Linked DNA regions of Homo sapiens: all the other regions are linked to region 2. The links come from fine-mapping of genetic effects on gene expression. A gene starts in region 2. Each other region holds a variant in brackets. All regions are shown on one strand. Distances are between the middles of the regions. Region 1 has its middle 22 kb from the start of TUT4. Region 2 holds the start of CC2D1B (coiled-coil and C2 domain containing 1B). Region 3 overlaps ZFYVE9 (zinc finger FYVE-type containing 9). Region 4 overlaps NRDC (nardilysin convertase). Region 5 overlaps ZFYVE9 (zinc finger FYVE-type containing 9).

The links. PIP is the estimated chance that this variant, and not a neighbour inherited with it, causes the effect.
Region 1: its variant is the best candidate, but not a certain one, in a credible set for the expression of CC2D1B in testis (GTEx, PIP 0.82).
Region 3: its variant is the best candidate, but not a certain one, in a credible set for the expression of CC2D1B in T cells (TOPMed, PIP 0.64).
Region 4: its variant is the best candidate, but not a certain one, in a credible set for the expression of CC2D1B in whole blood (TOPMed, PIP 0.54).
Region 5: its variant is the best candidate, but not a certain one, in a credible set for the expression of CC2D1B in whole blood (INTERVAL, PIP 0.87).

The regions. Positions count from the first base shown.
Region 1 is chr1:52,572,270-52,577,446 of GRCh38, forward strand. It overlaps the pseudogene EEF1GP7. Among named protein-coding and RNA genes, the nearest start is that of TUT4, 22 kb to the left of the region's middle. The variant C/T (reference allele first, on the strand shown) is at 2,756.
Region 2 is chr1:52,363,101-52,368,100 of GRCh38, forward strand. It overlaps CC2D1B (coiled-coil and C2 domain containing 1B), which reads right to left and starts at 3,105. Exons shown (of 25, transcript NM_001330585.2): 1 at 2,969-3,105; 2 at 1,452-1,534. The coding sequence starts at 1,520. RefSeq lists silencers at 2,705-2,814, 2,855-3,484.
Region 3 is chr1:52,275,999-52,281,175 of GRCh38, forward strand. ZFYVE9 (zinc finger FYVE-type containing 9) reads left to right here. Exons shown (of 19, transcript NM_004799.4): 9 at 2,494-2,616. Among named protein-coding and RNA genes, the nearest start is that of CC2D1B, 88 kb to the right of the region's middle. The variant A/G (reference allele first, on the strand shown) is at 2,352.
Region 4 is chr1:51,828,689-51,833,688 of GRCh38, forward strand. The region is part of intron 4 of NRDC (nardilysin convertase); the gene reads right to left. Among named protein-coding and RNA genes, the nearest start is that of MIR761, 5.2 kb to the right of the region's middle. The variant CA/C (reference allele first, on the strand shown) is at 2,513.
Region 5 is chr1:52,332,628-52,337,804 of GRCh38, forward strand. It overlaps ZFYVE9 (zinc finger FYVE-type containing 9), which reads left to right. Exons shown (of 19, transcript NM_004799.4): 14 at 141-291; 15 at 2,061-2,141; 16 at 5,145-5,177. Among named protein-coding and RNA genes, the nearest start is that of CC2D1B, 31 kb to the right of the region's middle. The variant C/G (reference allele first, on the strand shown) is at 2,762.

The DNA.
Region 1 (5,177 bases), 210 kb after region 2:
GTCCAATTTTTTCAAGAAGCCAAGAATCTGGGCACCTTCCACTGGTAACAGAATTGCTGGGATTACAGGCATGAGCCACTGTGCCCAGCCAGTTTTTATTCTTAAATATTCATAATTATGTGCTAAGGGATGTATGTGCCTGTTTAGCAATTCCCTTCTCAAACTTTGGGATCTCATCGTATGCTGCTACAGTCATTTATTGTTCCACAGTGATTTTCACTTGGTACTTGCTTTTTATTACAGCAACCTCTGAAAACTCAGCTTCAAAAAGACATGACATCATCCAGAGACATGTTTAAACCTTGAACTCAAGCTTGTGTGGTATCAGACATATATTGAATCTCCCTCTCCCCTCTCCCCTCTCCCTTCTCCCCTCTCCCTTCTCCCTCTCTCTTTAACATGGAGTCTCGCTGTCTCACCCAGGCTGGAGTGCAGTGGCGCGATTACAGCTCACTACAACCTCTACCTTCTAGGTTCAAACCATTCTCATGCCTTGGCCTCCCAAGTAGCTGGAGTTACAGGTGTGCGCCAACATGCCCAACTGATTTTTGTAGAGACGGGATTTTGCCTTGTTGTCTAGGCTGGTCTGGAACTCCTAGCCTCAAGTGATGCACCCTCCTGGGTCTCCCAAAGTGCTGGGATTACAGGCATGAGGCACTGCGCCCAGCTTGTATTTCTCCTAAAATGTCAAAATATCCTCTAGAGCCCTCAGTTAGCTAGGGCACCCCAGGGCTCCTCAAAAGACAATTTGGGAAACACACGTATAAAAGGGAAATCCCCTAACAAACCCTCAGGATATTAACACAGAACATCACAGAATCACAAATAGTGGTCATGATACTAACTTTCTCACCTGCATTAACCAGCCCCAGTTCCAGGCTGTCTTGGGGGAAGTAAAATGATAGGAGAAAATGGCCCTATTTGATGCTAAAATATTTGCAGAGAGCAGGCCTAAAAAGGACACCCCACAGGAGAAAAGTTCACGGGAAGAAAAGCAGAAGCCCTAGGCTGAACAGAAAGGAGAAAAAGGCGGCTGACCCTGCTCCTGAGGAGATGGATGAATGTGAGCAGGCACTGGCTGCTGAGCATCGGATAGCCAAGACCCCTTTGCTCACTTGCCCGAGTACCTTTGTGATGGATGAATTTAAGCACAAGTACTCCTATAAGGACACAATGTGGTGCTGCCGTATTTTCGGGAGCACTCTGATAAGGATGGTTGGTCTGAGTATTGCTTTCCTGAGAAGCTCACCCAGACCTTCTGGAGTTGCAATCTCATCGCTGGAATGTTCCAGCAGTTGAACAAACTGAGAAAGAATGCCTTTGCCAGTGCCATCCTCTTTGGAAGCAACAATATCAGCTCCATTTCTGGAGCCTGGGTCTTCACAGGCCTTGACACTGAGTCCAGATTGGCAGGTGGTCTTCGAGTCATACACGTGGCAGAAACTGGATCCTGGCAGCAAGGAGACCCAGACACTGGTTTGTGAGTACTGTTCCTGGAAAAGGGCCTTCCAGCATGTGGGCTAACTTCAGTCAGGGCAAGATCTTCAAGTAAACAGCTCTTGCCATTGCCTTGCTTCCTGTACCTGTTCTTTAAGGAGATGGGGATCATTAAAAGAAACTGAATATTGAAAAAAAAAAAGTTTAATTTAAGGTCAGTTTTTTCCATTTATGACGACTGAGAAATACCAAGTGCCTACTTAACAAGATTGCCATCCAACATTATTAAAATTTAAAATAAAAATATTGGGCCGGGAGTGGTGGCTCACACCTGTAATCCCAGCACTTTGGAAGGCCAAGGAGGAAGGATTGCTTGAGGCCAGGAGTTCAACACAAGCCTAGGCAGCAAAACAAGATTCTGTCTCTACAAAAAAATATTAAAAATTAGCTGGGCATGGTGATGCATGCCTATAGTCGTAGCTACTCGGGAGGATGAGATAGGAGGCTCGCTTGAGCCCAGGAGTTTGAGGCTGCAGTGAGCTATGACTGCGCCACTGCACTCCAGCCTGGGAAATAGCGTAAGACCCTCACTCTAAAAAATAAAGGAATAAATAAAAGTATTGTACTTTTAGCTACACTAAAAACTTCACAAGGTCATTGTCAGGCCCCATCCTTTCCTCAAAGAACACAGACCTTAGAGTCACATAGATTTGGATTCAAATTTAGACCCACTGCTTTCCACGATCTTGAGCAAGTCTCTCAATCTTTCAGATCACCTTCTCATAAAAAATGTAGACCATAATTCTCACCTCTTAAGTTCTTATGGAAAGTGAAAGAACATATAAAAAGTGCCTAGCACAGACCCTGGCACATAACAGGTGCTCAAGACCCCCTTGCCATTTCCTAAACATGCCTTAGACTTGCATCCTACTAAACCTTTGCAACATGGTGCTTCCTTGGCCTGATAAACCATACTGCTTTTGTCTGCTGCCAAACTCTGTTCATTCTGCGTCACCCAACTTAAATACATTCTTCTCTCTGAAGCTTCCCTTGGCTTCTTTGGAGAGAATGAGTCACTCTGTCTTGTTCAGTTCTGCAGGATTTACCACTATCGCCTCACTTGATCACATTGTGTTGTAATTGCTTATTTATGAATCTTCTCCCTCACCAGATTTTATGGTCCTCCTCCATGGCTGAAGCCACATATTTTCACAGCACCTAGCATGGTACTTGGCCCTCAATAAATGTTTCAATGAATGGAGGAATAATAATAGCAAACAGTCAGTGCTTAATTCTAGGCATTATTCCAAGTGCTTTA[C/T]AAATATTATTAACTTGTTTAATCTTCATGACAATTCTATGAATTATTATCATTTCTCTCTTACAGATGAGGAAAATGGCACATAGAAAAGTTATGTAATTTGTCTAAGGTCACTCAGCTATTAACTGTCAAAGCCAGGATTCAAACCCAAGCAGTTGGTGTGAGTCCAGACTTTTAGCCAACACACTACAATGCCTCCCAGTGAACAAAGGAATGAACAATCACAAACAAATTTGCTTTTCCCAAATGTCTTTCTTTCTCAGGTTTTGGAATGGCTCATCCATTCATTTAACAAACACTTTACATAGAGTTTTCTATGTGTATAATTATCACACTAAACACCAATCTCTGTTTTCCTCACCCCGGCCACACCCCACTTCACACAATCTTCACTGCTTGCCCCTAACCTCGACTGCTCTGTGAATTTCTTTGTTTTGTTTTGCTGGAGACAGGGTCTCACCCTGTCACTCAGGTTGGAGAGTAGTGGCATGATCATAGTTCACTGTAGCCTGGAACTCCTGGGCTCAAATGAGCCTCCTGCCTCAGCCTCCAGCCTCCAGCCTGAGTACGTAGGACTTCAGGTGCCCATCATCACACCTGGCTAATTTTTAATATGTTTTTGGAGAGATAAAATCTAGCTATGTTGCCCAGGCTGGTCTCAAACTCCTGGACTCAAGCAATCCTCCCACTTCAGCCTCCCAAAGTGTTGGGATTATAGGCATGAGCCACCGTGCCCAGTCCTCTTTCAGTTTCTGGAATGTGTTGTGCTCTCTCCCACCTCTGACCCATGACTGCCACATTGACTAACTAACTTGTACTTTTTCTTCAATTCTCAGCTTAAATTGCTTCCTTCTGAAAGACTTCCATTTGCCCCCTAAAGAAAGTTAGGTACACCTGCTCTGGGCTTCCCATGGCACTTGACACTTTCCTCATCATAACATTTTTCATACATACTCTTCTTGCCCATTTGCTTGTCAACCTTCTGCACTAGACTATAAGCTCTACAAGAGCAAGAACTGAGTCTATCCAGGTCGTCACTGAATCTGCAGCACCTAGCCTGATGTCTGGCATATAGTAGGTACCTGACACATATTTATCGAATGACAGATTGAAGCATGAGCAAGACAAAATCTCTATGCTTAAGTCTAGTGGGAGGCCAGGCACTATTCATTCCTATAATCCCAGTGCTTTGGGAGGCCCAGGCAAGAGGATCACTTGAGGCCAAAGGTTCAAGACCAGCCTGGGCAACATAGCAAGACCCCATCTCTACAAAAATAAATAAATTAGCTGGCATGGTGGTGTGTGGTTGTAGTCTTAGCTATTCAGGGGGCTGAGGTGGGAGGATCTCTTGAGCCCATGAGTAATTACAGTAAGCTATGATTGTGCCCCTGCACCCCAGTCTGGGCAATAGAGCAAGACCCTTTTTCTTAAAAAATAAAAAAATACAGAACTCTATTGGGGGAAATAAAAGCCTAGAGGGGATACAGGAAAATAAACACTTGTAGTATATTGTGATAAGTGCTATAATAGAGATCCCAGGGTCCTTCAGGGACATAGAGGGAAAGATTTCTAACTCTACTTGAGGTAAAGTGGAAGGGGGAAAGCTCACCAGAGTCTTAAAGGATAAGTGAGAGTTGAAAAGAAAGAAGTAGTATTAGCCAGGCGCAGTGGCTTATGCCTATAATCCCAACACTTTGGGAGGCCGAGGTGGACGGATCACTGAAGTCAGGAGTTCGAGACCAGCCTGGCCAACGTGGTAAAATCCCATCTCTATGAAAAATACAAAAATTAGCCGGGCGTGGTGGCACATGCCTGTAGTCCCAGCTACTCAGGAGGCTGAGGCACGAGAATTGCTTGAAGCTGGGAGGCAGAGGTTGTAGTGAGCCGAGATCACACCACTACACTCCAACCTGGACCACAGAGTGAGACTCCATCTCAAAAAAAAAAAAAAAAAGAAAAAGAAAGATGTAGTATAGAGGCAAAAAGCAAGAGCAAGAACTGTAATAGAAATTGCTTTTTAGCCTAAATGGCTAAATCATTTTTCTGTGTGTCTAAAAGTAACATTAATCTAAACTTAGTCTTACAATTGGCTTGTTTAGTAAGAATTTGGAAGCAATGTGAAATAACTTAAAAGGCAATTGATGGAATAATGTTATTTCTTAATTATCACTCCTATAAATTCCCATGAAAATCAGTTCTTTATTATCATATTTATCATGCTGCACTACCATTGTCAAAATGTGTCTATCCTACCTGATTGTGAGCTATTTAAGGCCTTGGATTAAAGAGCATTAAGATCTGATTCGATTCTATGTATTCCTCATACTGAGAACAAAGCCAGGCCCAGAGGATCTGTGAATACTCCAGCATGACCACAAAGTCCTAAATGAACTGACCTCCAACAAGCTCTGTTTCTTCTTGC
Region 2 (5,000 bases):
GTCCTATTTTTTGGCCAGGCGCGGTGGCTCACGCCTGTAATCCCAGCACTTTGGGAGGCCGAGGCGGGTGGATCACGAGGTCAGGAGATGGAGACCATCCTGGCTAACACGGTGAAACCCCGTCTCTACTAAAAAATGCAAAAAATTAGCCGGGCGCGGTGGCGGGCGCCTGTAGTCCCAGCTACTCGGGAGGCTGAGGCAGGAGAATGGCGTGAACCCGGGAGATGGAGCTTGCAGTGAGCCAAGATGGCGCCACTGCACTCCAGCCTGGGCGACACAGCGAGACTCCGTCTCAAAAAAAAAAAAAAAAAAGAAGGTCCTATTTTTTTAAACTCTGGTAAAACACATACAACATGAAATTTACCATCTTAACCACTGTTAAGGGTGAGTTCAATGGCATAAGGACATTCACAATATCCTGCTACCATCGCCATCATCCATCCACAGAACTGTTTTCATGTTGTGAAACAAACTTTCTACCCATTAAACATTAACCCCCCTTCCTCCCCTCCTTCCAGCCTCTGGTAAGCACCATTCTTCTGTTTCCATGAATATGACTACTCTAGGTAGAGGTACATCCTTTTTTTTTTTTTTTTCTGAGACAGAGTCTGGCTCTGTCGCCCAGGCTAGAGTGCAGTGGCACTATCTTGGCTCACTGCAACCTCTGCCTCCCGGGTCTAAGCGATTCTCCTGCCTCAGCCTCCCAAGAAGCTGGGAATACAGGCACATGCCACCACGCCCAGCTAATTTTTGTATTTTTAGTAGAGATGGGGTTTCACTATGTTGGCCAGGCTGGTCTCAAACTCCTGACCTCAGGTGATCCACCCACCTCGGCCTCCCAAAGTGCTGGGATTACAGGCGTGATCCACGGCACCCAGCTTACATTCTGTTTTTATCCCAATGTTCAGATGAAACTGAGACAGTCTTGTGAGACAATCAGAATTTAAAACAAGCTCTTTGCGACTTGAGTCTATGCCCTTTACCCCACCTCCTTTCTTACCTGCCTTTTTAAAGACAGTAAAAATGGACTAAGAAGTCTCAAGATGTAGGCCCAGAAGAAATAAAGGAAGAAAATTGGAGAGGAGACCCCCCTGTTCTTCCACTTGGGGCACAGCCATCTGTCCCTAGGCAGTGAAGTCCTCCCACTGACTACAGCCCTCATGCCCTGGCATCCCTGGCTAACAAGCAAAGTTGTGACCCTATCTAAGGAACCTTTGAGAGCACTGAGGTCCCATCAGAACATCCTAAACTTTGGTGATTCCTGAACCCTCTCCCCACTTGTATGTGGAAGAGACTAGTAGGAGGGTGTCTAAGGGCTCTGCCACCTCCAGGAGGCACTGCTCCAAGTCTCTGAACTAATGGGGGAACTACATGTGATCCAGTTTGCCTAAGTTGTCTAGGGACCCCCATCCCCAAACCGACCCAGTAGCCTAGAAGGCTAAGTTCCATACCTGCTTGGCAGCGGCCACCCCTTGGCCTCTGGCCTGAGGGCCCTTCCGAGGTCTTGGCCCTGGCATCATGGCAGCCTAGATACCTATGGAAGAGTTACAGAGATTCAGGCTGGAGTAGCCCATAAGCCACGCCCCCAACAGTGCTACCCGTGGTAAGGTGTGGATAGTAAACTCCCAAAGAAGGCAATGCTGAACACCAAAGTATGGGTTACCTTTAATTAAAGCACTGAAGCAGCACAGGCCATGGGAGGGATGGGGATCACCTGTTAATGGGTTTACTGAGGAATGTTCTGAACGGACTCAAATTTAAAAAGCACATTCAGGGAAGTACTCTAGGTTCAGGGTGGGTGGAAGGCTGGGTAGAATTCAGAAAGGCTCTAAAGCTGTGCTTATGGAAGCCACAGCTGGCTATTTAATTTTAAATTTCAATGAATTAAAATGAAATAAAGCTAAAAATCCAGTCCATCAGCCACAACAGACACATTCCAAGTGCTTAACAGCCATATGTGGTGAGGGGCTATGACCAGACAGCACACACACAGAACATTTTCATCATCCAAGGACATGTCATCAAAGTTCCATCTCACAGCTGAGCTCTGGAGAAAGCTGGCTCAGCATTCTGATTCCCATAAAGATCTCACAGTTATTCACAGGACCTCCTGTGTCAGACCTTGCGCTGGGCACTGGGAGCGCAGAAATGAACCTAAGACGGTCTCAGCCTTCAATGACCATTTACAGGGTGGAGGTGGACTACACGGGGTTGCCCCAGGGGCCATGGGTGCCCTGAGGTGACCCCTTCTTCAGCCCTGGGAGAAAAGGCTCCTCCTTCGAGGCGGTGACGCCTGAGCTGAGTCACGCAAAGAAGTTGGGGGAAAGAGGGAAATAGGATTCCAAGACGAGGGAACACTTGACGGCTCTGAAGTGGGGAGCAGCTTGGCCTGTACAATGGAACCTGAGGCCTGGTATGACTGGGGCATAAGCGGTGAGGCCTGAATGCACAAGCCGAGGTGGAAATGTGAGCAAGCGGCAGAATATGAAAACCTCTAAGCCGAAAAGCGTTTGGGCATTATTCTGAGGGCGCTGGGAAAGAAGTGGCGGGATCGTATCGGTGTTTCAGAAACCCCATTCTGGCACCAAAGGGGAGGTGCACAGAAGGTAGGGGGAAAAGGCAGGAAGCCGGCGCATCTCGCCACAGCGCTGGCGGGGAGACCAGCTGACGGGCGTGGAGGCGGCGGGGAGCGGGCGGAGGAGCTGGCGGGCGCTCCGGGGGACTCTGAGTGTCAGATTTCGGGAGTGACTCCGGCTCAGGTGAAAGCGAGGCCAGACACTCCAAGGCTGCGGCCCCGATGACACAGCCAGGCCTCACGGAAGGTGGGCAACGGAGTCCGTAGGGGGAGGCGACACGGGACCCCCACTCCCGCGCTGCGGGACGCGCCGCCCTGCCCCGCCCGCGCCGCCTCCATCTACCCCCGCGGTCCCCAGAACTCCCCACGCCGAGGGGCGGGGACGCGGCATACCTCGCGGTGAATCCGAGCCAAACCCCGGCCTTGTCTCACCCGGCACCGCCCTGGGCTCCCGCGGGCCCTGGGCCGCAGCGGTAGCGACAGGAAGCGCCAGCAGGGGAGGTGGCTCGCGCGCAACACGTGACCCCACTGGCCGGCGGCCGGCAGTGCGCATGTGCACGGCTACGCGGGCGGGGGGCTCCAACAGGTGACACCGGGGCGGGGTTCGCAGCGCGCAGGCGCGTTCGGGTAGGTAGCGCAGGACAGGAACTCTGGGCGGTTCCGCCGGGGCGTCCACCGGCCGGCTCCAATGAGGTCGCTGCGCCCAGCCCTCGCCCACTTGCAGCCTCTCCACCGAACCTCCTCCCTCACTCAGCCCGAGGCGCTGGGCGCTCGCTCGCTCGCTGGACCTACCCCGCCTCCAGCCCTCGCCCCGCCCCACCGAGCAAGAGGGCGGGGCCTACCCAAGCTCCGCCCTGGAAGAGAGACAGGGGCGGGGCTCACCTGCTTGTCCATGTCCTTTAAGCCTGGGGAAATGGAAATGGGGCCCACCATATGTTTCTTAATAATTCAGCACCTGAAAGTATCCTTTTCCGGTCCGTTGAAAACTTCAGACAGGCAGAGCTCGCTGCACATCTTAAATACTTTACAGAGTCTAACACTAAGTTCTCACTCGCCTACCCTGCTGTGCAATCAAATGGCATGGAGGATATTAAGGAGAGAAACGGAGTATACCCGTTTTCTGCCAAGCTTGTGTCAGTCACTTTTCATAATGGAGCTTATACCAGTTCTCAATCCTGCAAGATGGACATCATCTCTAGAAGAAACGGAGGCTCAGAGAGAATTATTTGCCCAGGGAAATACAAAACCAACCTCTTTAGCATCAGTAAATATGCTCTAGTCTAGTTTTCTAAGGAAAGCACGTTTCTCCCTGCGGCTTGCAGAGTCCAGTTAACAAGAGATTGAGCTCAGGAGTCCGAGACCAGCCTGGGCAACATGGCGAAACCCTGTCTCTACAAAAAATTACAAATATTAGCCGGGTGTGGTGGTGCGTGCCTGTAGTCCTACCTACTGAGAGGCCGAGGCAGGAGAATCGCTGTGGCCCCGGAGGTCCAAGCTGCAATGAGCTGTCAACTGCACTCCAACCCGGGTGACAAGGTGAGACCCTGTCTCAAACTAAAACAAACAAAAAAACCGAGAGCGGAGTAATGGGGAAGTGGCCAGATTCCCATCTAAAGTAACCACTTCGATTTTGGGGGGAAAGAGAACGGCTTAAAAGGAAAATTTGATATGGGAAGCATGCAAGAATTGTACAGAGTACAACGTCTGTGTGTCTTGTTCTGGTGGCTATCTTGGGTCCCAGCCTACCTGGAGCGTGGGCTGGTCTCATCTCCACAATGGCCCCGCTGTTGACTAGCCACCTTGAAGTAATCTTTGGAATTTTGCAGCTGTGTCTCCAGGCTTGGTTTGTCTGTCTCAAGATTAGCCCTTGGAACTTCTCAGAAGGCAGATAATTAAATACTAGCATACAGTAAGATAAATGTGAAGGGAGTATATACAGTGAGAAAGGGAGGGATATGGGGTCTATTTTACAGCTAAGGGAAAAGGCTTTTGCAGTTTGCTTCAAGGTTGTATCTTGAAACCCAAGAGAAAGGAAAAAAAGTTTTAAAATGTATTTTAAAGTTAAACTGCTGGATTAGTTTCTTCTGTCTAAAACATTGCCATCTCCTCTCCTGCCTATGCCTTGAACTTTTAAATTATGTTTTCTAGTTAGCGATCTCCCAGTTTACTTGGACAAAGGGCTTTTCCATCTCCTGATTGCTTACTTTTTTTCTTTTTTTTTTTTTTGAGACAGGATCTCATTCTGTCACCCAGGCTAGAGTGCAGTGGTGCGATCTCCACTCACTGCAACCTGCACCTCCCAGGCTCAAGCAATCCTCTCACCTCAGCCTCTTGAGTAGCTGGGACCACAGGCACGTGCCACCATGCCCAGCATTTTTTTTTTTTTTTTTGTAGAAACATGTTTTTGCTATGTGCCCAGGCTGAT
Region 3 (5,177 bases), 87 kb before region 2:
CCGGGTTCAAGCAGTTCTCCTGCCTCAGTCTCCTGAGTAGCTGGGACTACAGGTGCATGCCACCATGCCCGGCTAATTGTTGTATTTTTAGTAGAGACAGGGTTTCACTATGTTGACCAGGCTGGTCTTGAACTCTTGACCTGGTGATTTGCCCACCTCGGCCTCCCAAAGTGCTGGGATTACAGGCGTGAGCTACCATGCCCGGTCTGACAATGTTTCTTATAACCTTATCTCAGCCTGTCTTTCTAGCCATTTATTATCAACTTTATTTCCAGCTATTCCCCAGCACCTTACATGTATACTGCAGATTATTTGCTATTTTTTGAATATTTACTTTTCATTCTTCTGTACTTTTTCTTGTGCTGTGGAATAATGGGAAAGAATGGACTTCAGAATTGAACAAACCTGACTTTTAATGCCAGTACCGTTCCATTCTAGCTGTGTGATCCAGTTGGCAAGTCATTCATCCTCTCTGAATTTGTTTCCTAGTCTGTTTTATTTAAAACAATTATATAACTACACCTACTTAAAAGTCATTGTGGTTATTAAGTTAGATATCATACCTGTAAGTACATACCAAGAAAGTATCTGGCATAAAGTAGGCATGTAATTAATATTTTCCATTTCTTCCTTTCTTCTGCCTAGAATACCCCTCTCTACTGTAGACTTCCTGAAGAACTCCTCAACCTTTTAAAATCCAGCTTAATGGTTAATTCTTCTCTGAATCCTTACCTGGGCTGCTTAGAAAATAGTGATTTGCTTCATTATCTCTGTTCTAATAGTGGTTCCTATAGACTGTTGGCTACATTAACACTTTTTCTCATTGCAATTTAGATATTATATTTTCAGATCGTATTCTTTCACTTAGACTATGAAATTCTTCATCTTATTTTATACTTGCATTTACTGCTCCTTGCATGGTGCTAGGCCTGTAGTAGGCTCTCAGCAAATGCTGTCTATATTGTACTCTCAAATGCAGCTATGTCCCAGATAGTTCAGCAGTGAACTTTCACATACAGTTAAGCATTCTTTTGACTGCATAATGCTTTTGCTTCTTTACCAGGACCCTGTAAAAATATCTACTGTTAGTAAAATTGCTGCTTAGGGTTCAGATTTTTATTTTAATAAATCTTAGATTAATAAGGAACTAAATTGGCCTACTCTGTTGTTAAAAAGAGTCAGATTGTTGGATTCTATTGTTAGTAAAATACCTATTGTTAGTAAAATTATCTATTGTAAAAATATCTATTGTTAGTAAAATTGCTGCTTAGGGTTCAGATTTTTATTTTAATAAATCTTAGATTAACAGGGAACTAAATTGGCCTACTCTGTTGTTAAAAAGAGTCAGATTGTTGGATTCCATTTTCATAAAAAGTTATGTCCGTTAAATCTAATTGTCAAAACTTCTCCTACCAAGAAAGAACAGTGAATTATCTATATTACTTAAACTATATTACAGTCTCTTCATCAAAATTTTGTAATTTTTTATTCCAGTGGGATGACTTTACTTAAAAAATTTTAAACTCAGGATTTCTCTTTCCAATAAATATTTTTAATAATGGAGTAGATATTTCCCATTGTATCCAAAAAATCCATTTTAAAATTTCCATTAGAAAATGGGAAATGATGTTACTTTGTTCTACCTGACTGTCCCTCAAATATGCATTTTATATAAGACCAACCAAGCAACATTCAACTTTTAGGTTTTCAGTTCCTTTCCCATATCTCTAGGTTCTACAGTGATTATTACGCATGATTTGACTTCAAGCTGAAAGGACCACTGTCATTCAAAATGAGATGCTGAAGCACATACTGTGCTTCCAGAGATTAAATGAGAAGAGTTACATTCAGTATTAACTTGTTCATGTTCAGAATCTTATGTGTGATTTACTGATGATTTTAGTGACATATGTACTAAACTCTTAAATTATACTTAAAGGAATTGTTTTATGAAGCCAGTCACACACAATACTTTTATTTTCTGGGTTCATTTTTTAAAGTTTAAGTTTTTAATTGTCAAAAATGTCAAACAGTACAAAAGGTCATAGAGTAAAAGGTAGGGCTCTCTTCTACCCCAACTATTTGATATCCTTTCCAGAGGTAACTAGTATATTATCACTTTCTTGTATATCATGAGTTATTTTAAATGCTGGTCTTGAACATTTATTATGTGAAATTCTTGTTATAATAGTTGGAAAATTTTTATTAAATAGAAAGGTAGTCTTTAGATTGTGGCACAAACCACTGTGGGGAGAGGTCTATACACAGGATAACCACATTATCATCTAAGGTGGACTGGGTCACTTTTGAGAGTAAAAGAGGGCACTATTAATTTGATACTGAGCCAGCAG[A/G]TACAAACCATGCTCTGTATGCACCTATTGATAAATCAAATGCATGTCTCTTTTCTGTGAATAATTAGCTCATTTCTCCATCTGATCTCTTTCTTGATTTGTTCCTTTAACCAATCTATTACATTGTTTTCTCCCCTTTCAGACTATGCTGTGGAAGAGAAACCATCACAGATTTCAGTAATGCAGCAGTTGGAGGATGGTGGCCCTGACCCACTTGTATTTGTTTTAAATGCAAATTTGTTGTCAATGGTTAAAATTGTAAATTGTAAGTTATAAATTTTTAAAAATTAAAATCAGATGTTTTACTGACTCATAGTACATAAAACTTTCAGATTTATTACACACAAGTATTTTTATATAGAGCCACATCTTTTTTTTTTTCTTTTTTTTTTTTTGAGACAGAATCTCGCTGTGTCACCCAGGCTGGAGTGCAGTGGCACCATCTCGGCTCACTGCAAGCTCCACCTCCCGGGTTCACGCCATTCTCCTGCCTCAGCCTCCTGCCTGAGCAGCTGGGACAACAGGTGCCCGCCACCACGCCCGGCTAATTTTTCGTATTTGTTTTTTTTTTAGTAGAGACAGGGTTTCACTGTGTTAGCCAGGATGGTCTTGATCTCCTGACCTGGTGATCCGCCCGCCTCAGCCTCCCTAAGTGCTGGGATTACAGGCATGAGCCACCGCGCCTGGCCTAGCCACATCTTACTGAACACTGAGTTCTGAAAAAGTTGGTTTTTATAAAATGATATATCCCAGAGGACAGCTGTGGAACTAACCGAAACTCTCACATTTAGTTACAGGGGTGAGGTAGGTGAATTCTCCATGGATGAAAGCCAAACAAATCTTGAACTTATCTGAGTTAAGTTCTTCTTGAGATGAGTATGTTAAATCACAACTTACCACCAGAATAACTGGTGGTAGATAAATTATACAGGCTACTCAAATAATTTACATGCTGTGTTTTAATCCCAGAAACCTCAATTATGGTGCAAAACTTTATTTAGGAAAAGTGTTAACTAACACACAGTAAAGCTTCAATACATCATAAATTGAGATTCAGAAGAAACTTCTCAATTGTTGGTGCTAGCATCATGGGCATCAGGATGAGAAAGACGACAGTATTTGAGAATTTTTTGAGACAGAGTCTCACTCTGTCACCCAGGCTGGATTGCAGTGGCATGATCTCTGTTCATTGCAACCTCTGCCTCCTGAGCTCAAGCAGTTCTCCCACGTCAGCCTCCCAAGTAGCTGAGACTACAGGTGCACACCACCATACCTGGCTAATTTTTTTTGTATTTTTTTGTAGAGACAGGAGTCTCACCATGTTGCCCAGGTTGTTCTTGAACTCCTGAACTCGAGTGATCTGCCTGCCTTGGTCTCCCAAAGTGCTGGGATTACAGATGTGAGCCACTGCGCCAGCTAGTAATTTTGAGAATTATTTAGAGAATGCATTTATTCTGAATGAGTGTTAATAGGCAATTTTAAAGGACAGAACCTCTGGGGAACCATCCTGCAGTTCTCCATGTGTACTTAAGTTGATTTTGGAAACCAGAAACATATACTACTTCCTTAGAAGTTCTACATTGATGAAATGTGGGTTTCTGGCTTACTTGCTAATCACACTCTTGTATGTTTGGCCAGTTATTAATGCTTGCTACCTTCTAGGATCAGATTTAAAATGAATTTGCTTGAAATTTCAATTTGCCATATCTAGTTTATAAATTATGCTTAGAAATTAGCTAACCTAAGACCAGGCACCATGGTGCACACCTGTAGTCCCAGTGCTTTGGGAGGCCAAGGCAGATGAATCACTTGAGCCCAGGAGTTCGAGACTAGCCTGGGCAACATGGTGAAACCTCATCCCTACCAAAAAAAAAAAAAAAAAAAATTGGGCATGGTGACATGCTCCTGTAGTCCCAGCTACTCTCGAGGCTGAGGTGGGAGGAGTTCTTGAGCCCAGGAGACGGAGGTTGCAGTGAGCCGAGATCATGACACTGCACTCCAGCCTGAATGACAGAGTGAGACCCTGTTTAAAAAAAAAAAAAAAATTAGCTAACCTAGATTCTTGAAGTATATACCATCATGAGGAATGTCCTATTTAGGTACATAAAGCAAGGATTCCCAAAGTGAAATAAAGATGTCTTTGTTTTTTTGATTAACATTTGTTTTGATTTACATGGTGGTATTCATAATTTTATTTGAGTCCTTTTTCAGTTCCTTTGGGGATCCCATTGTGTTGGGGTATGAAGAGTAAAAGTGTCAAGGATTAAACATTGTTTTTGACTACATATGGTTTCTGCTGTTCATACTCTCCATATAGCCTTAAAGTGAAGGAGTGGAACTAAGTAGTTCAGAAAAGCCATCCTTTTCACTAATTTTTACAGCATGAAGCCAAGTAAAGTCATGTTGCTGATTATCTAGAATTTTTTCCTGGAAAGGACTATAGTTAAAATAGCTGGAATCTCTTGGTCATATATTAAATTTAATAAATATACATAAAAATATATTTCCTTTAGGTCACAACCTGAAGATAAAGCTATATTATTGGCTTTTGTTGTAATTACTTCTAGCCTTACATTGGTAATTACTTCCTTCGATGATGTGATTTTTTAAAATATAAAGGTGGAGGACTATGTTCTTCAATCACGTTTGGCTTACAATACATAGTTTGGTTTTATTTTAGTATTAATAGAATGTTGCTTCTTTTAATAGGAGTTAAAAGTTTTAAGTGCGTTTTATTATTATTTCTTTTACTTCCATTTCAATCATTTTTCTTTTCTTTTCTTTTCTTTTTTTTTTTTTTTGAGACGGAGTCTCACTCTTTCGCCT
Region 4 (5,000 bases), 530 kb before region 2:
AAAATTAATTTCCTAAAATGTTTAGTAAACTTTTTTTTTTTTTTTTTGGATATAGTGTCTCACTCTATCACTCAGGCTAGAATGCAGTGGCACAATCACTGCTCACTGCGGCCTCAAACTGCCGGGTTCAAGCAATCCTCCTGCCTCAACCTCCGAAGTAGCTGAGACTAGAGGTGTGCACTACCATTTTTTTTTAAATCTTTAAATTTTTTATAGAGACAGGGTCTCCCTATATTGCTCAGGCTTCTTTAAAAAACTTTTAACTTTTGCTTGCAATAAGGTAACTTTTAACTTAACTACCTGCTAGATATATTGGGGCATTTTTTTTCTTTTCAGTACTTGGTATGATTAATGATGGGTTGGATAATTTCTGTTGACTTAAATAATGAAACTAATTTTATTTAATTCTGTCACCCAGACTGGAGTGTGTAGTGGCACATCACGGCTCACTGGAGCCTTGAACTCCCCAGGCTCAGGTGATCCTCCCACCTCAGCATCCCAAGTAGCTGAGGCTACAGGCATGTACCATCATGCCCTGCTAATTTTTTTCCCTCACCATGTTACCCAGACTGGTCTCCAGCTGCTGGGCTCAAGTGATCCACCTGCCTTGGCCTTCCAAAGTGCTGGGATTATAGGCATGAGTCACCATGCCCAGCCTACTAACATTCTTAAAAGATATTTTTATTTAGTGTACAATTTATGATTCTAGTTATTAGTTGGTAGTTATTTTCCTTCAGAGCACGAAGTTGAGTAGTCATCTGTAAGTGTAACTCATCTTCCTTTGAAGAAAATTTTCTCTTTATCTGGCAAAAATTTTCCATATTTCTTCTAATGTATCCTTTTGGAAGTTATTAGACTTTAACCTCTGATTTGATGTCTTACAACAGGTTCTGAAAATTTTCCAGTGATCAACCCTTCAACTGTTGTCTCTACTTCAATTTTCTCTCTCCTCCTTCTACAACTACAAGTAAAATACATGGGATGTTTTCATTCTATCCTCTATGCTTCATATTCTTTGTATTTTTAATTTTGTGCTATATGCTATATTTGGGTTATATATGTTCTTTATGCTATACTTGGGTTAATTCCTTCTGTCTTATCTTCTGGCTTACTAATTCTATCTTCAACTCTATTTACTCTTAAACTTGTCCATGACATTTTCAATTTTTTTTATCATAGTTCAGTTCAAGATGTATCTTTTCATTTTACAAATTTCCTAGGTCATATTTGACAGTTTCTTATTCCTTGCAAGTATATTCAAATTTGTCTTTTATTTCTTTTTTTTTTTTTTTTTGTGACAGAGTCTCGCTCTGTCACCCAGGCTAGAGTGCAGTGGCACTATCTCGGCTCACTGCAAGCTCTGCCTCCCACGTTCAAGCGATTCTCCTGCCTCAGCCTCCCAAGTAGCTGGGGCTACAGGCACCCGCCACCGGACCCGGCTAATTTTTGTATTTTTAGTAGATATGGGGTTTCACCATATTAGCCAGGCTGGTTTCAAACTCCTGACCTCGTGATCCACCCGCCTCGGCCTCCCAAAGTGCTGAGATTACAGGCATGAGCCACTGCGTCTGGCCTTTATTTCTTAAAAAATAGAAAGTATAATTATTTTAGAAATTGTGTGTAACTATGCCAGTACTTGAGATGTCTCAGAATCTGTTTGTGTTATCTGTTCTCAATCATGTTGTATTATTTTCCTGAGTACCTGCTTATTTTTGACTGAATGTTGGTTATTTTACTTGAAAAAATATTTGTAACAATTTAGGGCCTAGAAGGAAGGCATCTTCCTTTTGAGATGCCTTATGTTTGCTTCTCCCAGGCTCCTGGGAACACTACCAGTTCTGCCCATGAAGCTACAATCAAGACTTGGGGTTCCCCAGAATACTCAGGCACTTGGAATCTAGGCTATAACTACTCAGGACGCCTCATCCTTTTTCACAACCTGAAAGTGAAGATTTTGTATTCCCGCTTATAATGGGGAGGGTCTCCTGTTAGAAGTGGACATCCTAAGCTTTGATATTTGTCACTCTTACCATGAAATACTGATAAAATAAAGTTCAAATTTACTGAAAATAGAAGACGCCACCATGGTAAAGACGGCTTCCATGCTCACTTACTTAACTGGAGTAAAAATTTAGTCATTTCCTCAGCTGTTTATTTAAAAGATACTTATAAACAATGTGGCCTGTGTGAGGGAATCAGATTTTGCTAACCTATTAAAAACAGGTACTTAATCCATGTTATATAAGAGCATATTACACACGTATAAAGGCTTTTCCTTATACATTGTAGAAGTATAATATTATAGCATTTATTATAGTATTTGCACCCTATAATGCTCTACTTATGGCATAAATTTATGATTTGATATTCTCATTAATTTATCCTATTAATGCAGTGGCTTTCTTATTGGGTGGCTTTCTTTTTAAATAAAAATAAATGTGTAAGGTGATATTCTTAGATGCTGAAGCAGTCCTTGTACAAAACATATTTAGAACAACTCTTTAAAAGGAAA[CA/C]AAACAAATTTCTTAACTACATTTTATACCAAATTTCATCATCTCTGAGATGGCCAGAATGTATTCATATCATACATACCATTTGCCTATCCTTTTTCCCAATAAAATCAGTTATTTTTCCTTCTTTGTATATGGACAAAGCTAAATATAAAGTTGTAAAAATTCAACTTGTCTTCTGCTTAAGATTTCTTCACACATACAAAGACCTGTTTGGATTCTGTAAAACTTAAGAGCTGAGAACTCTGTAACAAGAGTAAAGATGCAGTTTTCTTCAAAGTTGTATGGTTAAAGTCTCCTCTGAAGGTATTGCTGATCCTGTCTAAATTTATAGGAAAGATCATCTCAGGCATCATTTGCATTGCCTTCATTGATTTATCTTTCTTTTTTTTTTTTTTGAGACAGGGTCTCGGTCCATCACCCAGGCTGGAGTACAGTGGTGCGATCTCAGCTCACTGCAACCTCCGTCTCCCAGGTTCAAGCAATTCTCGTGCCTCAGCCTCCCAAGCAGCTGGGATTACAGGCCTGCGCCACCACACCCAGCTAATTTTTGTATTTTTAGTAGAGATGGGGTTTCACCATGTTGGCCAGGCTGGTCTCGAATTCCTGGGCTCAAGTGATCCACACACCTTGGCCTCCCAAAGTGCTGGAATTATAGGCATGAGGCTGCAGTCAGCCGAGATCACATCACTGCACTCCAGCCTGGGCAACAGAGTGAGACTGTCTCCAAAAAAAAAATAAATAAATAGTGGCATATGCTTCCAATTTATAGGAATATGTCCAAAGGATTTTTCCAGATCAAATTAATCTCTTAAGAAAAGAGATAATTTCTTTTTATTTTATCTTTTTTATTTTATTTTGTTTTTGAGACAGAGTCCCACTCTGTCACTCAGGCTGGAGTGCTATGGCATGATCTCAGCTCACTGCAACCTCCGCCTCCTAGGTTCAAGCAATTCTCCTGTCTCAGCCTCCCAAGTAGCTGAAATTACACGCACATGCTACCAAGCCCAGCTAATTTTTGTGTTTTTAGTAGAGACAGGGTTTCACCGTGTTGGCCAGGCTGGTCTCGAACTCCTGGCCTCAAGTTATCCGCCCACCTCGGCCCCCCAAAGTGTTGGGATTACAGGTGTGAGCCACCACACCAGGCCAATTTTTAAAAAAAATATTAGATCTCTATCATGTTTAAAAAAAATTTTTTTTGGTCATTTATCTTTTGATTTTATGGTAATTTTTGCTATAAAGGAACTGCATTAATTCATTTAACAAATCTGAGTATCTACCAAATTATTGATTTGCAGATGTATCAACAAAAAATAGATAAAAATTCCTGCTCTGAAGGAGCTTACATTATACTAGACAAACGTGAGGTTTCTTTTTTCTTTTACATTTCAATCTTGCATATATCTAGAATTAGGTATAACTTTTTTCTACTTTTCTACTTTTTTCCGGGGTAGACTTTGGTCTGCAACCCTGTAATCTCAAACTTCTACTATTGTACTGACAAACTTTCTGGAAAACAATTTTGCAATGAATTTCAAAAGCTTAAAGAAAAAAAAAGTCTTAAAAATATATTTGCAAATATACTCAGCAATTTCACTGCTTAGAACTTAATAGAAATAATTAAGGATATTCACAGAGATCAGGATAATCATCACAGTATTAGAAAACTGGAAACAACTCAACTGTCCAATCATATGTAACTGATTAAACACCTTATGGTACTTCTATACAATGTAAATAACATACAATCACTAAAAATCATGTTTTATAAATTATGTAAGTTAAAATGATATATCTTGCTTAAAATTAACAATTATAAAAGGGTATGAACAATATGATCGGTATACTTTAAAAAATATAGATGGGTCTATACCAAAACATTAATGGTGGTTATCTCTAGATTATAAAGTTGGAGGCAATCTTATCCCTTTTTTGCTTCTCTGTTTCTCCATATTTTCTACTAAATTCTGTTTTTTAAGTGGCTGGGCAAAGTGGCTCACACCTATAATCCCAGCACTTTGAGAGGCTGAGGCAGGAGGATCACTTGAGGCCAGGAGTTTGAAACCAGCCTGGGCAATACAGAGAGACTCCCAATTCTACAAAAAAATTTAAAAATTAGCTGGGAGCGGTGGCACATTCAGCCTGGGAGGCTGAGGTTGCACTGAGCCATGCATTCATGCAATTGATGGCCAATTGCACCACAGCACTCCAGCCTAGGCACCATGGCAAGACCATATCTCTTAAAAAAAAAAAAAAAAAGTCATAATGAGTCAACAGAGAATACATAATTAATAAAATTAATAAAACCCAAAAGGTGTTGACTTTTATTTTAATCTTTAATACAAAGACTATATATAATAGAACAAGAGTCAAAGTGTATTTAACAGTTTAACAGCTTTTTTCTCCAAATAAAGTTTTGTTTGAGACAGGGTCTCAAACAAACTCTGTCACCCAGGCTGGAGTGCAGTGGTGTGACTGTAGCTCACTACA
Region 5 (5,177 bases), 30 kb before region 2:
TGTTTCATTATTTGGTGGCCCTTTTTGTCACTTTAATACGTAATATTCTGTTAGTTTTGTTTTTGAGAAGATGGAGTTGCACCATGTCAGACAGAAAAATGCCCATTCTTGTCAGAATAAGGTTATCTCTTTGATTGCAGATGATGAAAGCCATGAACAAGTCCAATGAGCATGTCCTGGCAGGAGGTGCCTGCTTCAATGAAAAGGCAGACTCTCATCTTGTGTGTGTACAGAATGATGATGGAAACTATCAGACCCAGGCTATCAGTATTCACAATCAGCCCAGAAAAGGTGAGCATTTGAGCTGGTTGAGATTATGATAATGGAAAATTATACTGGACTTGGACAGTTAGATACCTCAGTCCCGTAACACTCACTTTCTAGATAGGTGACCACAAACAAATTAATTAACCTTTCCAACCATATTCTTCAGGATTATGTTGACTCCCCAAGTGGCCAGACTCAGAGTTGCAAATGGGATATGTGTTATTGAGGGAACAATTTTGAAAATATGCCCTTAGGAGGGAGGGATAGCATTAGGAGAAATACCTAATGTAAATGACGAGTTGATGGGTGCAGCAAAACTAACATGGCATGTGTATACGTATGTAACAAACCTGCATGTTGTGCACATGTACCCTAGAACTTAAAGTATAATAATTAAAAAAAAAAAAAAAAATATGCCCTTAGGATATTGACAAGGGCCAGCTCTGGCATTTGAAGGCACGACTAGGCCCCATAATGAGAGTATGTTTAGGTAAATTTGAAGCTTGTTGGATGACCATTCCCACAGAATGCTAATTAACTTGACAGGATTCTGAAGGAGGTTTCAGTGCTATTCAGAATGTGGTCTCCACACCCCAGATTCACTAATCAAAATTTGCATTTTAACGAGATCTCTGTGTGATTCAAGTGCACATTCGACTTTGAGAAGCATTGCTCAAGAGGCGTTACCCAAAGTGTTTTCTCAGGCACCATGGTGTTAAAAACTTCACATGAAAAAATAAGTCTTGTTTAATAGATTTAATCTAAGAAACCCCGTGTTAGGCCAGCCGCGGTGGCTCATGCCTGTAATCCCAGCACTTTGGGAGGCCAAGGCGAGAGCATCATTTGAGCTAAGGCGTTCAAGACAAGCCTGGGCAACATAGCAAGACCCTGTCTCTTAAAAAAAAAAAAAAAAAAGCAGGGCATGGTGGCTCACGCCTGTAATCCCAACACTTTGGGAGGCCGAGGTGGGTGGATCACCTAAGGTCAGGAGTTCAAGACCAGCCTGACCAACGTGGTGAAACTTCATCTTTACTAAAAATACAAAAAAGTTAGCGGGGCATGCTGGCACATGCCTGTAGTCCCAGCTACTCGGGAGGCTGAGGCAGGAGAATGGCGTGAACCCAGGAGGTGGAGCTTGCAGTGAGCAGAGATAGCACCGCTGCACGTCAGCCTGGGTGACAGAGCGAGACTCCGTCTCAAAAAAAAAAAAAAAAACTTAGCAGATAAAATAGTTGGCAACCATATTTCTATCTTCAGAATATATTTGATCTAAAAAAATCTGAAAATCAATGGATTAGATTGGGGGTGGCAAACTTTTTTTGTGAAGGGCCAAATGATAAATATTTTAGACTTTGCAAGCTGTGGTTTTTGTCAACAACTATTCGGCTCTAGTATTATAGTGCAAAAACTGCCATAGACAATAAGTAAATGAATGGACATGGCTGTGTTTCAATAAAATTTTATTTACAAAAGCAGGCTGGAGGCCAGGCAGGCTATAGCTTGCCAACCCCCTGACCTCAACCATTAAGATTCCTTTTCTTGTAAGATACTTGGATTCTTAATTAGAGGAAGAACAAAACAAAATGGGGGAGTGTATCTTAAAACCTAGTTCCCAAAGCTGTTGTAAGCATCAGAATTGTTGGTTACATGTTTATTGTGGAATATAGATTTGATTTTTTAAAATTTTCTGTGTGATGATGGTCGGAATTCTCAACTTCTGAATATTTTGTTATTATTTTCAATCCCTCCAGCTTAGGGTCTGTCTTACTAAACTATTTCTATTGCTGTTTTAGTGACTGGTGCCAGTTTCTTTGTGTTCAGTGGCGCTCTGAAATCCTCTTCTGGATACCTTGCCAAGTCCAGTATTGTGGAAGGTAAAGAATGAATTGTTCAGTCCTCATAATAAGGACTGAACTTATGTACATAAAGGGAATCCTTTACACTTCTGCTGTAGATGTCTGACTCCTACTGTTTTTTCAGTAGCATCTCTTCAGCAAATTAAAACTGCCATGAGAGTGCTTAGTTCTCTGAAGAAAGGAGTAAGTGGTAGGGATACCATGTGACAATGACATTAAAACTAGGAGATGGCCTTTCAGAGCTCTGGGATAAGGTACCTGAGGGCATGTAGTCTGAGTTCAAATATATCATTGGGTGGAAATATTAATATCTAAATGTGTAGATGAAAGTCCTGTCCACAAGAATGCTGTGGTCATCATTTGGAGTACAAAATGGCATGTGCTTGCTGCTAGTGTGCTATAATTAGACATGACACATATGTTGACAAAAGTTAATTAAACTAAAAGCTAATTGGCACACCGTTTATTTTCTTTGTTGGTTATTCATTGTGTTTTGATTTTGCTACTCTTATTTCATAACAGATGGCTTAAAACAACCATTTTATCATGCTTGCTTATCCTCTAGATCAGTAATCTTGACAGGGCAATGCAGGGATGGCTTAACACTGCTTCATGATGTTTGGAGTCTTAGTTGGGAT[C/G]ACTTGAAGTTATCTGATGACTGGGAGCTAGAATTATATGAAGGTTTGTTCACACACACGTCTGAGGCCTGGCCTGGGATGATTTAAAGACTAGGAGTGGTGACTGGGGTACTTACGTGGGGACTCCTTAACATGGCTTGATACCATTGGGATAGCTGGACTTTTTACATGGTGGTTCAGGACTCCAAACATGAATGTTCTAGCAAGAAGGTGGAAGCTGCATTGCCTTTTGTGACCCACCCTTTAAAGTTATATTGTGTCATTTCCACCATACTCTGGTGTTGGAAAAAGGGAGGGAAATTAGACTTCACTTCTACATGGGAGAATGGGAAGATAGCATTGTAGAAAAATGAGATGGGAGATATGACCATTTATGGAAAATGTAGTCTGCCTCACATGATGACAGGTTTTCATTTTTACAGTAGCTCACTCCAAAGCTCTGTGTAAAAACAGTCCTTTCTTAGGCCGGGTGCGGTGGCTCACGCCTGTAATCTCAGCACTTTGGGAGGCCGAGGGGGGCAGATCACTTGAGGTCAGGAGTTGGAGACCAGCCTGGCCGACATGGTGAAACCCCATCTCAACTAAAAATACAAAAAACAGCCAAGCGTGGTGGCGCATGCCTGTAATCCCAGCTACTTGGGAGGCTGAGGCAGGAGAATCACTTGAACCTGGGAAGCAGAGGTTGCAGTGAGCTGAGATTGTGCCATTGTACTCCAGCCTGGGCGACAGAGTGAGACTCTATCTTTAAAAAAAAAAAAGGTCCTTTCTTAGGGCTGGATTCCAGTGTGTTGATTGAAATACGTAGATAATCTTACATATATTTATAGATACTAGCTTTGGTCTTCTTTTGGTAAATTTAATAAAACAGTGAGTGAAACACAGAGTGCACTAATATTTTACAACTAAAATTTACAACTCTTGACTACAAAACAGAAACATGCCGTTAACAAATTGTTATGAAATCTAAGAGGTTTTTTTTGTTTTTTTTTTTTTTTTTTTAAGATGGAGGCTTGTAGCCCAGGCTGGAGTACAGTGGCACAATCTTGGCTCACTGCAACTTCTACCTCAAGTGATTCTCCTGCCTCAGTCTCCTGAGTAGCTGAAATTACAGTTGTGCGCCAACACGCCCAGCTAATTTTTTTGTATTTTTAGTAGAGATGGGGTTCCACCATGTTGGTCAGGCTGGTCTTGAACTCCTGACCTCAAATGATCCACCAGGCTCAGCCTCCCGAAGTGCTGGGATTACAGGTGTGAACCACCACACCCAGCTTAATTAATCTAGGAGTTAAACAGTCATTTGGTCTAAAGCAACTAGTTAAAGCCTATATGATGAAGTGTTGACTATAGTTGAAATTGTGACTTCACAAGGTGATTTTAAAACACCCCTTAAATGTTGTTAAATGATAAAATGAGCTGGGCATGGTGGCATACACCTATAGTACCAGCTACTTGGGAGGCTGAGGTGGGAGGACCCTGTGAGGCCAGGAGCTTGAGGCTGCAGTGCATTATGATCGTCCCTGTGAATAGTCACTGCGCTCCAACCTGGGCAGTCATCTCTTAAAAAAAAAAAAAAAAAAAAAAGATAAATTGACCTGACACAGATCCTTACCAATTCAAAGCAGTGTGTTTAAAAATTATGTGTTTATGTGTCTGGCTTGGGAATTTCTTGGGTCTTGCATTTCACTTGTGTGTTTCAGTGGAGCGATTGGCTGACTATGAAATTGTTATTGAGACTCTTTAGAAATTATTTCATTGTGTGTCAGTGAAGCAGAGTAATTGCTCAGCATGTGACAACTTTTACTGTCAATTTCAGTGTTTGCCTTCAACTCAGGTAGGTAGCAGCTGAAAAAGTTACCATCTGTTGGTTATCTGGTAGCCCATATGAAACTCTGTGGTAGGTTTGCCTTATTTGCTAGTCAATAAATGGATTTATCTCCAAGCCCACTACTATAATTTATTCAGTGATTTATTTAGCAAACATTTATTGGGCATTCACTGTATGCCAGGCAGTCATAGTAAGGTGAGAGAGATGGAGATGCAAACAAATGAATATGACCAGAGGATGATAAATGCAGGAGTGAAAACAGGAACAAAATATTCAGTGTGTCCAGAAGAAGAATGTGACTGTGTTTAAGTTTTCCCCTTAAGTAGTCTCAGGAGAAATTCTTAGTTGTGTCTGAAGTGAAATCAACAAGCATGTGTTTTAATCTTGGCATTGCTTCTCACAACACTTTCAGTAAGAGGTTCAGCTCAAAGAGCAAAACCTCTGTATCAGTCAGCTTTGGAAAGCAGAGCTAAGGTTTACATTTAACTCGGAGGAATTTGCTAGATGCCAGGTGCTGTGTTTCATTTGCCTCTCCTTTGGCTTTGTACTGATTCTTAGATGGTGTTATGGTCCAGATTACTGCAGAGAACA